2 linked regions of the Homo sapiens genome follow. The protein of the gene in region 1 interacts with the protein of each later gene in a pairwise test. Each region holds a gene or a part of one and is shown on either strand. Other genes may lie near its edges.

Region 1 (7,578 bases):
AGCCCCTGTACCAGGGCAGTGGGGTGGGCCTGGGCAGGCTCCTGCATTCCCACCTCCTCTCCACAGCAGGGAGCTGAAACAGCTCAGGGGCAGGCCCAAGAAGTCCTGGCCCCCAACTCCCTGGGGAGGGAGCCCCTCCCCAGCCCAGCCCCAGCTCCAGGCTTGTGAGTCAGGGCCGGCTTGTTGAAACTGATACCCAGAAACCAGATGCGGAGGCTGATGAATAATGGAGTCTCCAAGGCAGGACCCCCGCACCCGGCTGTTCTCCCTCAGTATCACCTCCCCCAGCCCCAGAAAAGCAGATGGGAAACCAGGGATCCCCCAGGCATCCCTGCCCCACAACGAGCTGGGGCCCCAGCCTGGTCTGGGTGGGAGAGGGACTTCCCTGTCCAGGAAAGGACGCAGGTCTGGGGCCAGCTCCAGGCTCTGCCGACAGCAGACGGGCCTGGAACCAGGAGTCCGAGCTCTCTGGCTGGAGGGATGTCCTTGCCAGGAATTCCCACCAAGGCTAAGCTCCCCTGGGAGCCTGCTAGTCCCAAGGCCCCACCCAACACCTTAGAAATCCAGGGGTGGAGACTGCATGCATGGGCAGGCCAGCCAGGGCGGGGTGGCTTTGCCAGGCGGCTCTCTACGCTCCACCCGGCCTACCCACCCTCCTTTCCCCTAGGCCCAGGCCTCACCCATCACCCCTTGGGTTCTGAGGCTCACCTGGAGTCAGAGCCTGACCTAAGGCCCTGCCCTGTGCCGGGCAGATGGCAGGGACACAGAAAACCTCTCCCCAGGCTAAGCCCACCGCACGGGCCCTGGAAGCCAGGAAGGCCCCTTCCTCCCCAGGGAGCGGTCCTGGCTAGTATGCCCAAGGCTGGGACCCAGTGCTAGAGAAAGAGGGAGGGGCTGCAGTCTGTGAACATCCCCTCCTGCCCAGCCTCTGCAGTTCCCAGCCCCAGACCCCAGCGTGTGTCTTCGGAGCACCTGGACTAGCAAGCCCTTCCCCGGTGCAACTTAGAAGCCTCCTTGGTAGGGAGCGGGGGAAAGAGGGCACCTGCCTGGGCTTCAGAAGACCTGGTCTGGAGCCTACGTTCCCCCACCCTTCCCCTACTGGGCCTCAATTTGCCCACCTGTGCCAAGAGGGCATAGAATTCAGTATCTGGGGATGGCTGCCAGGTCCTAGTGTGTGCCCGGACCCCGGCTAAAGGGCAGGAGAATGGTAAAATACCCCCGAGCTCCCTCAACTTGAGGAGTTACTAAGGAATCTGCAGGGGACCTCTTGGCCTCCATTTCCCAGACTTCCACCAAGGCAGGCCAGGGCCTCCCCGGATTCACGGGTCTCCCGCATCCCCCACCCCTAAGTGGGTGCCTGGGTCTGCTCAGACTGCCCGAGGCGCAGCCTCTGGCGCCCCCTGCCGGCCTCGAGAGGGCTTTTCCGCCTGGGACCGACTCCGGGACTGGCCAGATGGGGAGGATCGGCTGAGCCTCCCAGCCACGCCGCGCGCCCGGGCCCCTCCAGGATCCCCCTGCCCCGCCAATACCCCCCATACCGGGGCCAGGGTCCCATAGACTCCTCACGGCCCTATCTCCGAGCCGACCCACCCTAGAGACACTGTGATGGGGGCGGGAGCTTGAACCCATTCCACCCTCACGTAAATGGAGATACAGCTGGTGAGGACCCTGTACCCACCCACAGGCCTGGCACTACGTGGGAATCTCGAATCCGGGTTCTGTCCATCGGTTTAGGGGGGTCCTGGCGCCTAGTCCCACCCCCCGTCCGGAGCGCAGCTCCCACTTCCCCGCGACTCACCTAGGAACAGGACCAGGGTCTCCTCCCCGGTGTCTAAGGCTCTAAGGCTCGGGCCGAGACTGCCAAAGCCTCATGGGGCGCGCGGGGAGAGGGGGACGGGAGCCGCGGGACGGGCTCAGTCGACTCAGCGCAAACTGGGGCGCGGGACGTAGGGGAATTACGGTAGCCGCGCGGGCGCTACCACCTGGACCGGCCGGGATGTACCAACGGCGCCGCCCGGCTGGGACCGGGGAGAGGAGGGGTCCCAGGAAGGGCCCCGCGCCGGAGCCAGGGAGGTGGCTGGAGGCCGGGCGGTGGCTTGGGGTAATCCAGGATCCGGGCTCAGGGGAGGGGGTGGGGGGCGTCACTGTCCCCGAGGGGCCAGCCCTTTGCAGATCTCCAAAAAGTTCAAAGTCCCTGGTCATTAACTTGGGCTTGAAGACGGGAGCTCGCCCATCCCGGAAGGGGGCTAGGGGGGACCAGGGCCCGCGACAGGAAGCCTCCGCGCGACAGAAAAGCCCCGGGGGACCAGGCAGAGAGACCCGCAGGCCTAGCCCGCCCCGGAATCGCCCTGAGCCAGGTTCGCTTCCGCTCTATTGTAAAAAGCTGGATTCTGATCTGCGGCCTCCGCGGTGCCCCAGAAACAGCCCGCTTTTCTCTGGGCCCCCTCTTTTTTTTTTTTCTGGCCCAGGTGATATGGCCGGAAAAGGGTGCTGTTCTGCCATTTAGTGGTTCCCAGTTCCCCTCTCCCAGCAGCGGGAGTTTAGAATAACTCTGGGCTCAGGACTGGGAAGGGTGTGGATACAGGGGGCCCACTCGAGGAGGTGGAGTTCAGGTCCACCAACCTGTTCCGCACTTTCAAGCTTTTTATACAGCCTTCCCCCGACCCCTTCCCAGGCCAAAACCTCCAGACTGCCCCACACAACCCTTGGGGCTGGGCCTATACTAGGGCAGCTCCTGGCTGGGCCAGGGATCCCCACGTCTTCACCTGCTCCCCCAAAACTACTTAGCCAAAACCCAGGAGTCCCCTTGCATTGTTTCTCTGGCCCTGCCCGTTTCTTCAGCTGCAGATAGCCCCACCACCTCTCTCCGGGGACCAGTCACTTCCAGAGATGGCCCAAACCTGGCCATTCCCTGGGGCATCCTGGTCTGCCGCTGCTCACCCCCAAAGCATTGCCCAGGAGAATAGGTGATTGCCTCTCCCATTACTCACATCCTGCCCGTCCCTTCTCCATGGGGGCCTCAGGTCCACCCTTTCCTCTCCCTGGTCTTCATCTCACCACCCCTCCCTCCACACACGCATACCCTGACTCATCCCTGCCACCTCACAGGCCATTGTTAAGCTGCAAGGGAACTCTGAAGTCCTCCCATCCAACCTCCACTCCACACTGCAATCCCCTCTACGCTTCCCTTTCTGTCTCTTCTTGCATATGTCTAGTGATGGGGTGCTCACTACCTCCACTTCGGGGATAGCTCCAGCTGCTGGAAACTCTTTCCTGTAGTGTGCTGAACCCCACCTCCCTGTCAAGGCCTTTGGGAGCTGTGCAGAAAAATTCACCTCCCTTTCCTCCTGAGAGTTCTGAGGAAATGGGAGGCTCTGACAGAGAGGCCTGGTTTGAGTCCTGATCTTGCCTTGCTTGGCAAGTCATTTTACCTCGCCACTCTGCAGGGCCCTCTCTAGGAAACGGAGATGGGGTAGGCCCCACCGCAGCGGGGGAGGCGGCCAGATGAGGTTTCTGTGCCAGGCGCTAAGGCAGGGCCTGGCATACAGTACGTGCTGGATCAATGGCGGCTGCTGGAATCACTACCTCCTCCATGATAAACACCCTCACATGTGGTGCCCAATGTCCCCTGTGGCCCAGGGCCACAAGTGTCCTCCTCCATGCCCCCTTGTGACCTGGGACGCCCTGACTAGACCTCGAACAGTGCCCAGTGGAGCCCAGCAAGGAGCTGGGGAGTCCACACACTGTCCCGTGGCCACCTCACAGGAGGGCAGGGGGAACCCACAATATCATTAGTCTGCCTTGATCTCCCGGCCTTTCTCCATCTCCCCAAACTCACAGCTCCACCTGTGTGCAAGAAGCTGGGATGGAGCCTGGGGAGGTCTCAGATCCCAGGGCAGGTACGGAGGGCACACCCAAAGTCTAGAGGTGACTTTGTTACCCCCACTCCCAGGACACCTTGCACACCTACGCTGTGCTAGGCTCTATGCTAAGCATGTTATATATGGGCCTCTTTTAATCCTCGCTGCCGGGTTATTTTCCAGATGAGGAACCTGGGGTTCAGAGAAGTGTAGTGACTTCCCCAGGGTCGCACAGCTGGAAAAAAGTAGGTTTGATCCTGGAGCTCAGAGGTGTGGACTGCTCTACATATCTTCATCCTGGGGAGGGGCCATTTCTCTCCTGGGGTCTCCATGACACACAGTCCAGACCCCTCATCTGGACATGCAGGTGCTCCTAGTGCAGCCTGCCTCCCCCTCCTCCCGTCCCCTTCTCCCTGTGCCCCCTGGCCTCGCTTGCCCCTTATAGCCCCCAATGTCCCCCCCTGCTCACTCAGCTGTCCTCCATCTCAGTACCTCTTTAATCCTCAGGACTCCAGTTGCCTCCAGGAAGCCCATCCTGGTTAGCCCTCCTCCCAGTGGGAACTCCAGGGGCAGGAGGTAGGGGACAGATGGCAAATTCATCTCAGAAGCTCCAGCACCCAGGAGAGCCTCAAATAAAACATCAAGGGTGGGCCCAGAAGCCGAAGGGTCCAGCCCTGCCTGAAATTGGTCCTTTGCCAGGGCAGCCTGGGGGGAAGTTTGGCCAGCCAGGGTCACTTCCCTTCCTTCCTCCCAGCACAGCTAGAATGTCACCTCCAGGAGGGCATCCCCTTTGTTCTCTGGAGATCTCCTGGGCCTAGAACTGGGCCTGGCACCGACAGATGCTCAGAGCTGGTCTGGTAAATGAATAAATGAAGTCATCTCCTTCAAAACGCTAGTCACATCCTGGAGAGTAAGAATAGGGCTCTTGATCAGACAAGCCTCACGCAGGCCAGGCTCTGACGATCATGCTGTGTGATGTGGGCAAGTTCCTCTACCTCTCTGGGCCTCCGTTTCCTTACAAGTCATGTGGTCATAAGAATAACGCTGTTCTCCTGAGGGTCTCAAGAAGCTTCACTGAGACAAGCAGGAGGGCCTAACGCCCCGCCTGGCATGTAAACATGTTCGGTCAGCAATAATTGTTATTATTATTATTATTGGGTGTTTTTTGAGACAGAGTCTCGCTCTGTTGCCCAGGCTGGAGTGCAATTGCGTGATCTCAGCTCACTGCAACCTCCTTCTCCAGGGTCCAAGCGATTCTTCTGCCTCAGCCTCCTAAGTAGCTGGGATTACAGGTGTGTGCCACCATGTCCGGCTAATTATTTTTTATATTTTTGGTAGAGATGGGGTTTCACCATGTTGCCCAGACTAGTCTCGAACTCCTGACCTCAAGTGATCTGCCCACCTTGGCCTCCCAAAGTGCTGGGATTACAGGCATGAGCCCCTGCGCCTGGCCTGTTATTTTTGAGACAGGGTCTTGCTCTGTTGCCCAGGCTGCAGTGCAGTGGCACAATCACGGCTCACTGCAGCCTCAATGTCCCAGGCTCAAATGATCCTCCCACCTCACCCTCCCCAGTAGCTGGAATTACAGGTACCCACCACCACACCTGGCTAATTTTTTTTTTTTTTTTTTTTTTTTTTTTTTAGACGGAGTCTTGCTCTTGTTGCCCAGGCTGGAGTGCAATGGCATGATCTCAGTTCACTGCAACCTCTGCCTCCCAGGTTCAGGCAATTCTCCTGCCTCAGCCTCCCGAGTAGCTGGAATTACAGGCACCCACCACCATGCCCAGCTAATTTTTATATTTATAGTAGAGATGGGGTTTCGCCATGTTGGCCAGGCTGGTCTCGAACTCCTGAGCTCAGGCAATCTGCCCGCCTTGGCCTCCCAAAGTGCTGGGGTTACAGGTGTGAGCCACCACGCCAGGCCTTTTTTTTAATTTTAGTAGAGAGAGGTCTCCCTATATTGCCCAGGTTGGCCTCAAACTCCTGGGCTAAAGCAGTCCTCCTGCCTCAGCCTCTCACAGTGCTGGGATCGCAGGTATGAGCAACCACACCCAGCCAGTAGTGGTTATTATTATCATCATCGACAATGTTATTCTTTGTTTCTCTTACCAAATCTGAGTGCCCCGCACCTCCTCTCCACCACTGCCTCTCCCTTCCTGGACTGCCCTTGCCTCTGTTCTGTCTATCCATGTTTTCACATCCATTAAAGGCCCCCTCCTCCAGGATGCCCTCCCTGACTGGCTCTCTATGCCTCTGATAATTCAGGCATTTCTGCCCCTACAGTGAGTCTGTGCCATTTGTCCCAAAGGGCGTCCCAGTAGTGACAGGGCCCAGACTCTCCCCGTGCACGCTGGGTGACCCTCATCAGCTGATGCCAATGTCAGCTGTGCCAAGTTCCAGGCAGGCCAGGGCTGGAGGTGAGGTCTGGAGGCTGCAGAGGGACCATACCCACTCTGAGACCAGCTCTCTTCTCCCAGGCCTCACCTCTATGAAGGCTGGGCCATCCCACCCCTGCCCCTGCCTGAGCAGCTTGAGGACCCCCCCTGAGAGCAGCTGCCCAGAGGAGGGGCTGGGACAGTGTGCCTTATTGCCCCAGCCGCCCCTTCAGGTCAGGCAAAAGCCTCGGGGCTCCGCAGGCCTCTGGCAGGATGTATATTGGGGGGAGCTGAGGCCAATTTGTTGCCAGGAGCCCCCATCTGGGAAAGAGGCAACCAGCCAACACCAGAGCCCAATGCCAGGCACCATCCGTGCCAGCAGATTGTATCTGACATCACACCGCCCCCCTGCCTGGTGACCACGGCAACTGGAGGCCGCCCCCTCCCCGCCCCGCCCCATAGCAGTTCTCCCTGTTCCCTCACCACGGCCCTCCTGTGCAGAACGAGTGTGTGTGTGTCTGGGTGGAGGTGCGGGAGGGGAGCGGGGGGTGGGGGGTGGCATTTTACATTTCCTGCAGCTGGCAGTGCTGAGACACATGATGGAAGACAACACGGGCCCTGGTATGACACAGACCTGGGTACTGGGTTCAAATCCCAGCTCTCCCACTTCCTAGCAGTCTGTCCCTGAGTGAGCCTCAGTTTCCCCATCTGTAAATGAGAATAAGGACAGGACCATCTCAGAAGGCCGGAGGAGGAGTCAGTGAGTCCTGGTGCCTGCGCCAGATGCTAAGTTGCGCAGTTGTCACTATTGTCATGTAAATGCATGCTGGGAGGGGCAAAACCTGGCTCCAAACCCCGGCTCCATCTCTCATGAGCTGTGGGCCTTGGCCAAGTCACTGGACCTCTCTGAACCTTGGTGTCTTCATCTGGAAAACGGGGTGACGATGCCTTCCCTGCAGAGCTGCCGCAATCAGTGCATATGGCACAGAAAGCGGGTGGCACTAAGCCCAGCACATCACAGGCAGAAGCGCCCAGCCAGTACTATTATCCTCCTTCCTGCCCCCTTTATCCCTGATTTATACTTCGCCCCACTCCCAGCTCCCAAGCCCTGGCACTCCAGGATCAACTGGCCCCTTCCTCCTTTTGTCATCCCCAGGGCCATGGTCACACTCGCCAAGTCCCAAAGCATCTCAGACCCATGCCCAGGCCTGAAGAGTGGCTGAGTTCAACAGGAAGGGTGCCATCTGGGCACTGGACCAGCACCGTGGGAGACCACTTCCCCTGGCTAAGCCTCAGTTTCCTCATCCGTGACATAAGGCTACAGCTCCTGTCACCTCAGAATG
Region 2 (3,020 bases), on another chromosome or scaffold:
GTACATCTCCCAGATCAGTGGGGTAACTTGTATTATGTTGTGCTGTGTTATTTATCCTTCCACGAATTGCTGCAAAAGCTGTGTTCTGGGTCATCCCCACAACTGCTGTGAACAAGGGCATGCCTTGCGAGGTGGCATGGGTTAAGGACCAAGGCTTAGGACCCCACAGGGCAGAGAGGCAAACTAGGCTTATATTAGTATTAAACCTGTGACTTGAGACTGCATCATATTGCTTCATTCTTAAAGACTTGAAGGATTTCCATCTTTTCTACAAGTTAATCTTAGGCAGTATCATAGCTCTTTTTTGTATATGATCAAATCACTTAATCTAATTATGCCCCATTTTTTTCTTGTGATTTGAAAGCATCATGAAAACTTTTATATATGCAGGTTTATCTGTTACTACTATGAAGAATCAAAAAATTCCAAAGCCTTCTAGTTCAGAAAACGTTAGGCCAGATTCTGTAATCACCTATGTTAAAGAACAAAGCTAAACAGCTAAATCAGGAAGTAGATAATAAAAGACAGATCACATTTAGACAAAGACATGGTTACTTTTTTATTTGAAGAAAAAAAAAGTATGTTTTAATAAATACTGCGGAAACATTGACCAAACAAACATACACAGTGACTTCAACAGTTTAAAAAATGCAACAAAAGTTCTGCTTTATAACAGTTATAACTTATTTTCTTTTTACAATATTTAAATACAGAAAGCACTCGCCAGCTATTTTGTAATACTGCCCAAAGCATAATGCTGCATCAATCAAAGCATATTATGTTGGTAAAATGTCTGTATTTTATGGGAAATGACTGGAATCGAATTTTCTTGCAGAGACAAGACAAAGTGCTTGTAAGACATAGAACTGAGTGTTGTAATTACCTTAATCTCTCCTGCCACGATTTAAGGGGAGCACAGCTTCAACACTTCAAAAACGAAGCACTATCATGGGAAAGAAAGCTCGTTTTCAACAAGCGCCAACAATAAACAGGTCAGATCTGGTTTCTTCTCTGAAAGAATCTCTAAAAGGAACTGGTCAAAAATATCTGTAAACTATTTTAAATGCTTATTATTTTACGTAACAACAGAGACCAAGTGCTGAACACAGACCTTGGCTGCATCTGTTCAGTGAGGTTTTAGCAATGACACTCTAGAAATGCCCTAGTGTTATGTCAGGACTGAAAGTTTATCATATAATCTTCCACTAGGGATTCTCTAAAGCTTGGGTAAGTGGCATCTTCTCTCATCAATGTTCATTTAATGAAAAGTGAAATAAACCAACAGATTATCAGATGCTGTCAGTTTTGGAGCTTCAACCCAAAATAATAGTCCTTTTGCTTTGTATTTTTGGTAACTTAATTCCAGACAGCTTTACTCACAAACTGTGCTTTCTGCTACTATTCTTTCCTTCACTCATTACCTTTTCTGGTGAAAACAGTAACTACCTTTTTTCTCTCCTTGGATCATTCTATGACATCAAACCAAGACACCTTTTATTTGACTTTGCATTTTTATCAACGATGGCAAAAAATCACACAACTTCTAAACAGCGCACAAAAATATTACATTGAGCAATTTACCACTTTTTAATGACAATCACAATGAAGAACAGAACCATCAGACTGAATAAAAATCGACATTTTTTTTCCTATTTGATCTATGCGATCTTTGTAGTGCTGGTCTACAAATCTTGCAAGATTGCAAAGGCTTTCCTTAGAACCATCCTACTCAGCTATCTTCAGGAAGGCAAGATTTCAAAGCCTCATAAAGTTTGCCTCTGGATATATCCCATGGGTCCTGATACAATTTCCTTTTTAATGATGAGCTAGAAAGAAATTAGATCACATCCTCTAGAAAACTAAATGCTAAGGTCACAGTGCCAGTTCCCCCTTGAGGACGGTATATTAACGTATACTTTTTGTAAAGGAGATTAAAACATTTAAAAATTAAATCAAAGTGGAGATCCATGAATAGATTATAACAAAAAAAAAAAACCCAAAAATGCAAGCACCATTCAGAGTGTGATTTTTCTTCTTGGAGGTACTCGCATCCCCCCTCATCTTCCTCTAGCTCATTTGTATCTCTCATTTTTTGGCATATTTTTCAAGTCACACTTAAAAACTCTTCCATGTATTCACTTCTCATCACTTGGTCTACATGCCGAACCTAAGGTCAGGATTCCAAAAAGATGAGTATCCTCTCAAACGCCTCCTAAGCCTCTGGTATACATGACTTTGGCTGTGCACTTCATTTAGACTTCACCTTTTTGTTTGCTGTTGTTTTTTACACTAGATTCCTTTGTCTTCATTAAAGATAATGAAAGATTCACATCACAGTGCAGCTCTTCGCTTTGTCCTTTCGTAAGTCCGTAGCAACTGCCGAGAGTTCTGGTCTGCTAGGCATGTGTGAAATCCGCTTTGTGGCTCTCTGTGATTTGTTCCGCTTAACGTTTTTATTTGTCTTATTTACACATGCCAAGGTGGCAACGTGAAAAATGTCTCTGACGCTATTTTCCGACTGTAAAGCTGAGCATTCGATATAAGTAGCTGCTCCAATCTGTTTGGCCATATTTGCCCCCTGAGAAGCAAAAGAAGGGATTTTAACCAGCAATAAGACTTTGGGGGAAAGTTAGCTAGCATCTTCTAATACCACAAAATAATAACACATTGCAAAACGTTTGCTGATATGTTAACTGAATTTTCCAAGTGTCATTGCAAAAAAAAAAAGTTGTTAAAATGTAAACTGCCTTATTTATTACTTCATAACTATTTGCAGTCCAGAGCCCATCCCTAAGATGCCCAACTCTCATGGCTCATTAGAGGTGTTAGAGCTCTGAATAAATGCTAAAGGCTGATCTTAACAAAGGAAGACCCTGGTTATCAAACACTTAACATGAGGTGATTCAAAGAAGTGTAGAGTGGAGCTAACGAAGTGATTCATCTTCACTATCAACTGCAAGCAAGAGTTAACTGGTTATTCAGGTTTTCCAGGGTCACAGCAAGCATGGAATGGCGCAGAG

What was found.
Region 2: the proteins of PLEKHG5 (region 1) and RND3 interact in binary tests that used the Homo sapiens proteins (3 or more experiments, as listed by UniProt).

The regions. Positions count from the first base shown.
Region 1 is NC_000001.11:6,488,647-6,496,224, forward strand, and holds the start of PLEKHG5 (pleckstrin homology domain-containing family G member 5), read right to left. Parts: upstream 3,022-7,578; 5' UTR 2,991-3,021; intron 1,935-2,990; exon of another isoform or gene 1,799-1,934; intron 1-1,798. UniProt on the Homo sapiens protein: Functions as a guanine exchange factor (GEF) for RAB26 and thus regulates autophagy of synaptic vesicles in axon terminal of motoneurons. Involved in the control of neuronal cell differentiation.
Region 2 is NC_000002.12:150,467,661-150,470,680, forward strand, and holds the end of RND3 (rho-related GTP-binding protein RhoE precursor), read right to left. Parts: intron 2,579-3,020; coding exon 2,327-2,578; 3' UTR 535-2,326; downstream 1-534. UniProt on the Homo sapiens protein: Binds GTP but lacks intrinsic GTPase activity and is resistant to Rho-specific GTPase-activating proteins.